3 linked regions of the Homo sapiens genome follow. The protein of the gene in region 3 interacts with the protein of the main gene of each other region in a pairwise test. Each region holds a gene or a part of one and is shown on either strand. Other genes may lie near its edges. The genes, in order: CD53, TIMMDC1 and ST6GAL2.

Region 1 (3,600 bases), on a different chromosome or scaffold from region 3:
TGAGGTCACTTAGGTGGTGGTAACCATAGCTGTGAAGGCATGAACTTGGAATCATTCCTCATGAATATAAAGGTACCCAATCCTTTCATTTAAAAATTAAGTGTTCTTAACTGGCCCACACAGGAAACATCACAGGAAATAATGTTTCAGTTCAGTCTTTGCTCCCATTCAACCACAATTTCAAAATAGTACAGATTCTCCTCAAGATTGAGAAAGCAAAACCTCTTTGTTTGTCCAGCAGCTGGGAGTTTGCTTTTTCTCAGCTTTCTTCCAAAGCACACGCATAGTATGATATCTCTTATCTCCCATGGGAGTTCCTTAAGAGTAGGACTGTTTGCTAGACAAATATTCTCCTTCTACCTTTTCATCTCCCTCCCCCACAATTCCCAAAGCACAGTGCCTGGCCTCAGGAGGCACCTACCACTTGATTATTAAGTGAATTTATTTAAAAGACTGCTTTTTATTTTTTAATACAAGGCTCAATAAACTCTGAGGTGTTTTGGGAATCCAGAGCCCTCTCCCCGTCCCCACCCCTCTTGGAAATCTAGAGCCCTCTGCCCTGTTCCCAATCCTCATACTTAGATGGGTGGGTGTAATCAAAGAGAACTTTCTCCTTTCTGCTCCAGGGCATAATCAAGTGAAATTCTCACAGGTCTTGGAAGAAGAAAGCTCTTACATAGAGTTTCCGATGGTGGTCACAGAGAGTCAGGACCGAAGCTCTGCTAACACTTTGCTGAGTCCATGCAACCTCAGTCATTAGTTACAGCACATGATTGGAAATTACTGCAGTATCAAGTTTTGGGGATTGCATTTTATACGTGCATTTCATGTGACATTTATCAGTGGTCATGTTTTGTACACCAAGGATAATTTGGGGAAATGCTGAGGATCCCAATGTGCTTCCTGCTCCTTAAAAGCCAACAATCTATGCATCCTTTAGAGATGTCTAGCTTTCACCTTTTAAAATACAGTTACTGAGCACATCCTGGTGTTTTGATTTTTAGCCACCTTTCTATTTAGTGGCTTTGAAGAACCACAGTGGGAGTCACTAAATTTACTTTTGAAATTTTCTCAAATGAAAAAGAACTGTGTCTTCTAGCTGTCTTTCTAAAGACAGCTCTGGCTGTGGGTTCTTTCCTCACTTTAAAATCACAAGACCAATTTTCTGAAGACCAGAGCACATAGGAAATCTCCCCAATGTCATCTCGCATAGAAAGCTCCAGGCATCAGGAATTACTACACAGAGTAATTCAAGCTCTGAAGCAATTAAGGCATGTGAATGCCTCGACTCAGAGATTTAGATAATGGGAACCTGATTAAGTAAAAGTATTTCTGGCCTGATTGCCTTTGGGGATGTTACTAGGATCTTGCTAATCTGTTTTACTTTGTGCACTAAATATTTGTGAAAGAGAAGTTGCCGGAGATTTTATGGTTACTAGAGAGGTATATGGAGACCCCTAAGAATACGCCCTACCCCACATTAGACAGCAAGCCAAGTTAAAACGTCATCAACCTTACCTTTTCCAGGCACCGTTCCTCAGTCCTTTCGGCAGAATTTAGTGATTATCCTTGAGGTGGCCGAGACAAGGCTGGTAACACAGATATCCGGGGCTATTTGTGTAAAAGGAGAAGTGAAGGGTGAAAAAATATGATCATGCTGTGACGACAGGAAGCCCAGATGAGAAGAAGGAGGAAGTGAGGCTGAGTCCGCCCTCTTTAGTCTCAGAGATTTAGTACTTTCCCAGTGGCTTTTTAGAAGCTTCCTCTCACAGCCCACCCTAAACTAGTTTTGTGAAACAAAAGAAAACTTCAAAACCAAGTTGGTTCAGGCACAGATCTGTGAGCAGTGGTGGATTCTAGGGTAATTTGGCAATGATTTTTGCTTAGAAAAGGACAGTGCTTCTCAATCAAGGTGGCATCTCAGAATTAACTGTGTATTTGTTCAAAAAGAAGTATGCCTGGCCCCACCACCAGTTTCCCATTCAGGTAGACAGACTGGAGGGGAACACAGGAACCAATATTTCTAAACATTTTCTAGGCCCGAGACTTTGGAATGTCTTTCTGAAGATTCTCTGCCCCCTCCTCATACTCCCTCTGTCTGGCTTCAGCCAGTCTCTAGACTTGAATTGGACACCATTTGCAGACTTCTCTGTCTCGAGAGCAAGACTGTCTTAAGGTGAGTCCCCAAGGCATAATCCCAGGGGCACTGGTAGAAATGATTTGGTTAGTACAGGAAACACCACATTTGGAGCCAAAGATCTGAGTTTCAGTTCCAGCTTTATCTCTTTTAGCTGTGAGATCTTGAGCAAGTCTCAATCTGTCAGCCTCAGTTTATTAATGGTAACACCTAATAATAATCCTACTGGTTACTGTTACATCCTTATTTATATACAAGAAAACAGGCGCTCAAAGAGGTTAGAAAATTTGCCCAAGCTCATACAACTAAGACATGTCAGAGGTAGGATTAAAATTCAAGGTCACAGAGAAGGCCTTTTGAGAAACACTGTGATCAATATATTTTGAAAAATGTGTTTCTGGTTTCACTATGCTGCATCACTGGAATTTTCTTAGATTGGGTCAAAGGAGTATGTGACAACCCAAATGTATCACTAGCTAACTATGAAACTTGGAAGCAATCACTGGGCCCCAATGTTTTCATCTTATAAATGAACAGATAGATGCACTCTGCGGTGCTGACTTGCGGGCATGCCTCTGGGAAAGCTAGCTGTCTCCCGCTTCCTTCACCCTGAGACATTCAGATCCAGAGTAATCTCCAGCCAGGGCTGTCTTGTGGGGAAAACTGAATTAAATGAAGGTAAAAAGGTCTTTACTGCAGAACTTGTCAGTCCTTAATATTCTCTAAGCAGGGGAAATAATATATAGATTTCTCCAAACTTATCTGAGCATGGAACTGTGTGGTGTGTGTGTGTGTGTGTGTGTGTGTGTGTGTGTAGTTTCTCTTGGGGAACAATTTTTCAGTGTAACTACACTTTAGGGAATGCTATTAAAAAGTCTCTGCACCTCGGCTGGAATCACTGACCCTCACTCAGAGCTGCTGCCATGCTTACAGGTCCCTGAAGTGGTGGGGCTGAGGAGAGGCTTCTGGCTGAACTCATATTTTCCTAATTATCTCACCCATTCTGATGGCTCTAATTACTATCTGTCTGTTCCAAAGATTCACAAATCTATATAGATGCCATGATCTCTCCTTTGAGCTCCACTCTCTCCCAGGCACCTCAAATCCAATATCCAACTTCAGTTTGATTAACTTGGCATCCCCACACTCAAGCCTGCTCCTCCCACCATGTCCACCATCCAGGAAAGGCCTGACTGGCCTTTCAGCCACGTTCATGAGAAACCAGGTGTCCTCTTAAGCTACTCTCTCTCCCACACCACCACCTATTATCAGCCACCAAGTCCTGTCAGTTATGCTTTTGCCTAAATATTTCTCAAACCAGACCACCTCTCTCCAACCCCATAGAAATTACATTAGTCTTTATCTTTTACCTGTGTTACAGGATCCCAGTGTCCTTCAAGACCACCTTGGATGTTTCTTCAGTCTGTCCTCAGGAAGAAGGGAGGAGAGCCTTCTAAAATGCA
Region 2 (3,274 bases), on a different chromosome or scaffold from region 3:
GTGACCTTGATCAAGGTGTTTTGAAATGCAGAATTCTTGAGTTCTGGAAGGGACTTTAGAGAATACCAGTGTTATTAATGACAAAGGCACTGAGGCCCAGGGAGGTGACCCGAATTATAAAGGCCAGCGCCAGAACCCAGATTTCCTAACTCTGGTGCTCTTTCCCTTTATCAGTTTGACTGTGGCCTGTTAACTGGTATATACATATATATGTCAGGCAAAGTGCTGCTGGAAGTAGAATTTGTCCAATAACAGGTCAACTTCAGAGACTATCTGATTTCCTAATGTCAGAGTAGAAGATTTTATGCTGCTGTTTACAAAAGCCCAATGTAATGCATAGGAAGTATGGCATGAACATCTTTAGGAGACTAATGGAAATATTATTGGTGTTTACCCAGTATTCCATTTTTTTCATTGTGTTCTCTATTGCTGCTCTCTCACTCCCCCATGAGGTACAGCAGAAAGGAGAACTATCCAAAACTAATTTCCTCTGACATGTAAGACGAATGATTTAGGTACGTCAAAGCAGTAGTCAAGGAGGAAAGGGATAGTCCAAAGACTTAACTGGTTCATATTGGACTGATAATCTCTTTAAATGGCTTTATGCTAGTTTGACCTCATTTGTAAAATATTTATGAGAAAGTTCTCATTTAAAATGAGATCGTTGTTTACAGTGTATGTACTAAGCAGTAAGCTATCTTCAAATGTCTAAGGTAGTAACTTTCCATAGGGCCTCCTTAGATCCCTAAGATGGCTTTTTCTCCTTGGTATTTCTGGGTCTTTCTGACATCAGCAGAGAACTGGAAAGACATAGCCAACTGCTGTTCATGTTACTCATGACTCCTTTCTCTAAAACTGCCTTCCACAATTCACTAGACCAGAAGTGGACGCAACTTAAGCTGGGATAATCACATTATCATCTGAAAATCTGGAGTTGAACAGCAAAAGAAGACAACATTTCTCAAATGCACATCTCATGGCAGCTAAGCCACATGGCTGGGATTTAAAGCCTTTAGAGCCAGCCCATGGCTTTAGCTACCTCACTATGCTGCTTCACAAACCTTGCTCCTGTGTAAAACTATATTCTCAGTGTAGGGCAGAGAGGTCTAACACCAACATAAGGTACTAGCAGTGTTTCCCGTATTGACAGGAATACTTAACTCAATAATTCTTTTCTTTTCCATTTAGTAACAGTTGTGATGACTATGTTTCTATTCTAAGTAATTCCTGTATTCTACAGCAGATACTTTGTCAGCAATACTAAGGGAAGAAACAAAGTTGAACCGTTTCTTTAATAATGCTGATCTACTTTTTGTTGAATTTGTATTTTATTTCAAGTGTCAAAGAAATCATCTTTGTTTATTTAGATGAAACCAAACACTACACATTTACACTCACACTGCTTCCAGGACCCAAGGGTTTCACAGACCATTTGCCTACCTGGTTCTTTCCTCTCCTCTTTCCAGTGATTTCTAGAATACCCTTTCAAAGGACCACATGAATATACGAACTGTAAAATTCAACTTTAATCTTTTGCGAAATGTTTTATTTACTGCTTAAAATCTAGGTGGGTGGATATATTCATGTATGCATATATTGATAGATTAATACAAACATAAGTATGTATTTAAATTTAAGGATAAGTAAAGTGAGAGTACAACAGCCCCATTCTTAGTTAAAAAGAAAAGAAAAAGACAAGAGCAAGCCACTGCCACCACAGGTACCAGCACTTAAATTTGTCAGCAGGCTGACCAAAGAGTGGCCTGTCTGTTGGCATTCATCGGACATGGCAGCTCCCTTCAGCTCTCCAGTGAGTTTCAAGTTCAGAGCACTTTCAGTCCTTGTCTTGTTTATCTATTACTGAAGGGTTTCTAGGAAGGTTTAGCAGTGCTTCAATTTTCTTAGCATCATTCTCAGGTTCATCTTCCTGTAAACTACTTTCAATTTTCTCAGGGAGGTGCTCAGTAACTTGTAGTCTGCCTTTCCTGTAATCAGATAAAAAGGATAAATCAAATACTGCTCCATTTCTTTAGTTCTTACAGATTTAAAACAAAAAGGATAGCATTTGTCTTTTCCTCCCTGCTTTGGTATAGCAATTTAGAAGCAAATACTGCTCCCTGAACTTCAAATACAGTAACTTTCTTCTCTCTCCTAACCTCACAAGCCAATTATGATTTCCACATTACCATAATGGATACCGTTGTGGTGACAGCTCTGATCCATAAGATATTCCTAGTATGCTGGGTCCTAGAGTTCTCACAGGAGTGATGTGTGGGAACTGACACACTTTGTGCTAAGGTGTGAAGGCTTGAAGTCTCGCTGTCCTCTTGCTCCCAGGGCTGGGGGAATGTAAGTACCCTGCCACTCTTAAACTCTGTGACCAGACCTTTTAGGAACTGGTCAAAGGCTATAACAATGGTAATCCAAGGTAGAGAAAAGTCAGATAGAACAAAACTATAGATTTATATTTATGAAGAGTTAAAAACTAATTTCCAAATAATAGATCAGTTCTGTTTCTAAATCAAGTATTAGTGTCTTCCTTAAGTGATTATCGGGATTAAAGTTTCTTCTCAACTCTTCACAGATTTGGTCATTTGTTCTTCTATATCTCTATAGTCAGTTTTCTACATTTTCTGCTCATTGAGGCAATTTTTTTGACTCTCAATTTGTTTGATTTTCCTGTATTATTTTCAAGCGAAGAAGTAGGCACATACAAGACACTTAAACGTTTATTAACTCTCCTTAGAAATATCTCACACACACACACACACACACACACACACACAAACACCCATACGTGTATATGCTATACAATTTTGACACTTTCATTCTGCCAAAGTATTCTTTCATTACTATGATTCAAGTTGTTTTTATCCATCTGTCTTAAAATTGATACTAATAATTGTACATATTTATGAAGTACAAAGTGATATTTTTGTACATATACAATGTGTAATGATCAAATCAGGGTAATTAGCATATGCATCACCTCAAACATTTATCATTTCATACTGCTGGGACCATTCAAATATCCTCTCTTCCAGCTACTTGAAAATATACAATAAATTATTAACTATAGTCATCCTACAGTGCCACAGAACACTAGAATTTATGCCTCCGATCTAGTTATAATTTTGTATTCATTAATCAATCCCTTAAATCTCCTCTTCTTATGCCTTTCCCTGTCCCCTCCTCAGCCTCCAGTAACCATAATTCTACTCTTTACTTCTATGAGCCCATTTTTTAGCTCCCACATGAGCAACAGAACATGCAG
Region 3 (3,830 bases):
TTGGTTGTCAGTTCCAGAAAAATAATGGGGGAAGGAGAGTGGGTAAAAACAGGTTCAAGGCCACACATCAGTTTTCCTTTTAAAAAAAGTTTTAACCCTAAATTTGCAGCGCATATATATATATATATATATATATATATACATACACACACACACATATATACATATGTGTATGTATATACATATACATCATATATATATAGCACTTCACTTTATTGGAATTCTTCCTTGGTCATAAATTATATTTCAAGTTGGCAAAAAATGTTGATCAGAATTTCAAAAAAGGGAAGCATCAAAGTAACCAGCATGGGGTTTTTCAAGTGTGCAGAAAGTTCTCTAAATACAAAATGTGCTTCCAGCCCACCAAAGACCCCCCTCACCCAAGCAGGCAGTCCTCGGCGAGGAGGGTCAGCATGCCCCTTTATGGTCAGAACGGCAGTGGTGCAAAAGACAATGATTTCAACCAAATATGGTTTGCCTCTCGCCAAATTTTTCGCATGTCCAATAAAAATAAGTTCACAAAAATCCAGCCAAGCATTACTTTCCCCCCAAAAGTGCTTCTCAGATTACAAAACAGCTTTGAAAGTTCAGCCTGACAAAACAAATATGGTACTAGGAGGAGAGACCTGGAAGGCAATCACAAAAAGTCTCATTTAAATTCCTGGAAAGCACAGCTTCTCCAAACACAGCTATTCAGCTCTTTGGAAGGCAGCACTTGCGGGAGCCATTGAGTTTAACTTCACTCAGTCCCCCAACACAGAACCGGCAAATCCGAATGAGATGGACGTCACACTCCCTACTCAAAAGAATGCATCAAATATCCACTCCGTAACACCGCGGAAAGTAAACCCAAAAGCGGAGTTTGCCGCCTGCCAACTACATAAGAATTAACACTCGGGTATTTAGGATTCTAAAGATCCCTACTACCCCAAACATTATAGCCACAGAGAACCAGAAATGAACAGAACACACTTTAACCTTTAAGAAGTGCAGTTTTGTACGGGGGTTGGCTGAAGAAAGACAAAAATCTTCACTCCCTTCCAGAGCCAAAAGAGCCAAAATAAAAGATCACCTTTACTGAGCCACAGGGGCACAACTGTATCCGCCCGTCCCCAAAGCGCAAGCCGTCCTCCCGTTCGCTTCTCCAGAATTTCCTGCTTTTCCCCAAACCACCTTCAACATTCCCCACACACGGGTCTCGCTCCTAAACACGGAGTGTAACTCCGCGCACAGCAGCGCGGAGGCTGCAGCGCCACCAAGAAAGGCGTCGCCAACCCTTACCCAGTGCCCTCCCTTACCAGCCTTCTTCCCACGCCGCGCCTCGAAGCGCACGACACCGTGGTGCTCGGTGCTCCCCCTGGCAGCGCGGCACTGGAGTCCAAGGCGTGCGTGTCACATTTTATTCCCCGGCAGCCGCTCGGGTGCGCGCGCTACGCGCTCCCACACTCACGCTGGCGCCCGCTAGAGCTGGGACCCTGGCCGGGGTCCCCGACTCACGCCGCGGAACTTGGGGGCTGCAGAAGGCGAGTGCGCGGCGGGAGTCGTCCTGCCGCAGGCTCGAGTCCTCCTCCTGCCACCGTGGGGTCTCGGAGCTGCCCCGCGCTCCCGTCCCAGGCGGCCTGCGGGATCACCTCTCCGGGGCCAGCGCTGCTCCGCGCCGGCGGCAGCTGCAAGCGCGGGCGGCGGGGCACAGCGGGTGGCTCGGCCTCAAAGCCGGCGGGAGGCTACGCTCAGCCCCGCGCTGCACGCCTCATTGTTTCGGGCAGCGCGGCGGCGGCTCCCGCGGCCAGAGGAACCGCGGCCCCGAGCCCCGGGGAGAGGCGGCGGTTCCCGGCCCACGCACCGAGGCTGCGCCGCGCCCCGCCCCCGAGCTCCGCTCGCCCCAGAGCCCCCTCCCTCTCCGCGATCCCTTTCATCCTTCCCGCTCCAGGCTCACCTAGCTGGCGGGAGCCGGGCACTGGGAAGTTGGGCTGCCCCCTCCCCGCGCCCCCGGCCCGGCAGCTCGGCCCGCCGGCGAGCGCAGGCGGGGCGCTCCCTGGCTGCGCGCGGATTTCTGCTTGTCGCGGAGAGTGACTGCAGACTTGGGCTGCGTGGGGCGGTGCGGGGCAGCACGGCTGCCTAAAAAGGCGTGTTTCTCCCCGGCCGCCGCCTCCATCCAGCCCTAGTTCTTCCGAAGGTTACCTGCACAGTACCCGCCTGGCACCGCGCCTGGACACCTCCGGGGCACTCGGGTCCCGGGCGGCGGCAGGAATGCAGGAATGCGCACAGGCTGTGGGCGGCCAGGAGGGAGTCCCGGCGCCTGCCCCGGCGGAAGTGAGTCTTTGTGTACCCTGTCCAACACCTCCCCCCGCCAGCGCGGAAGGCCGGGCTACCTGCGCGCCTGGCAGCGCCTGGCAGCCGGCTGGGTGGGGCGCAGGGGAGCGCAGCATCCTCCCCGGCTCGCTAGCTCCCTTTGTTCATCTCGCTCAACCAGGCTCCGCACTGCCGCCTGGCCCTCGCTCCCAGAGCTTCTCTAAGGATATGGGATGGACTTGGGAGCGGGCCACCTTTCATTTGGGAAGGGTAGCTCGCCAAGTCCGGTGACGGTGCTCCCTGGAGACCCCCACCTGCCCGCCCCTCCACACTGCCGGTCCCCAACCCCAAGAGGGACGGAAAGTTCTTGGGGTAGAAGCCGGCGGGACAAGTGGTTGAAGCAGCCTCCGGAGCCAGTGGGCGGCTGCGAGCTGGGCAGCTGGAGCCTGCGGGCGGGGCCGCGGGGAGGTGCCCATCGAGTGTCGGTCTGGTCGCGTGCGGAATGTCCACTTGTCACCGCGGCCCTTGCGTTTTCTCGAGACGGCGGCAGCTGGTCCTAGGACCCCAAACCGCGCCGCCCTTTGTTTGCTGGTAAATACTCTCCTGTGAACTTCAGCGTGTCTCTCCGCGCGCACTCCTGGCATTGGGTGCCCCACCCCGCTGGTTCTCTCGCGGACCCAAAGAGCTGTTCAGGTGTAGGGGAATCCCAGGTAGATGGATAATATTGCTAAGGTTGGGCCCATCTCAGGGGGACTGGTTAGTCACCCCTCACCCCACCCCACACCCTCAGTCGCTAGAAGGACACACGTTTTGGAGACAGAGATCTGCCATTAAATGTATTATTTAAAAATCCGCAAATACTTTTATTCAAGTAATTTAGACTTTTTTTTTAGGGGGGAAAAAGCAATTAACTGGCTACCCAATTCATTCAGCATTCATTAGTGCCTACCTTAGCCTGGAACTCTGAGCTAGACAGTGGGCGCCCAGAACTCCCTCAAAGAGTTTACAGAAATGTAAAACAGCACGGGAATTAAACTAAAATCGAGTGGGTATAATGCACTGTGTTCAAACAAAAGTGTGGGCCGAAAACGCTTACTCAGTATTTCCCCAATTGTATTAATTATGTCTGACACATGGAATTCTGCGGAACTGCCTGAATGAACAATGTGTTACACAGATATTTTTTAAAAAAAGAAAAATTATGGCCGGGCGCGGTGGCTCACGCCTGTAATCCCAGCACTTTGGGAGGCCGAGGCGGGTGGATCATGAGGTCAGGAGATCGAGACCATCCTGGCTAACAAGGTGAAACCCCGTCTCTACTAAAAATACAAAAAATTAGCCGGGCGCGGTGGCAGGCGCCTGTAGTCCCAGCTACTCGGGAGGCTGAGGCAGGAGAATGGCGTGAACCCGGGAAGCGGAGCTTGCAGTGAGCCGAGATTGCGCCACTGCAGTCCGCAGTCCGGCCTGGGCGACAGAGCGAGACTCCGTCTCAAAAAAAAAAAAAAAAAAAAAAAAAAAAAAAAGAAAAATTATATTTT

What was found.
Region 1: the proteins of ST6GAL2 (region 3) and CD53 interact in binary tests that used the Homo sapiens proteins (3 or more experiments, as listed by UniProt).
Region 2: the proteins of ST6GAL2 (region 3) and TIMMDC1 interact in binary tests that used the Homo sapiens proteins (3 or more experiments, as listed by UniProt).

Annotation. Positions count from the first base shown.
Region 1 is NC_000001.11:110,871,167-110,874,766, reverse strand, and holds the start of CD53 (leukocyte surface antigen CD53), read right to left. Parts: upstream 1,620-3,600; 5' UTR 1,519-1,619; intron 1-1,518. UniProt on the Homo sapiens protein: Structural component of specialized membrane microdomains known as tetraspanin-enriched microdomains (TERMs), which act as platforms for receptor clustering and signaling.
Region 2 is NC_000003.12:119,522,317-119,525,590, reverse strand, and holds the end of TIMMDC1 (complex I assembly factor TIMMDC1, mitochondrial isoform 1 precursor), read right to left. Parts: intron 1,986-3,274; coding exon 1,835-1,985; 3' UTR 501-1,834; downstream 1-500.
Region 3 is NC_000002.12:106,884,795-106,888,624, forward strand, and holds the start of ST6GAL2 (beta-galactoside alpha-2,6-sialyltransferase 2), read right to left. Parts: upstream 1,374-3,830; 5' UTR 1,299-1,373; exon of another isoform or gene 1,073-1,298; intron 443-1,072; exon of another isoform or gene 381-442; intron 1-380. UniProt on the Homo sapiens protein: Transfers sialic acid from the donor of substrate CMP-sialic acid to galactose containing acceptor substrates.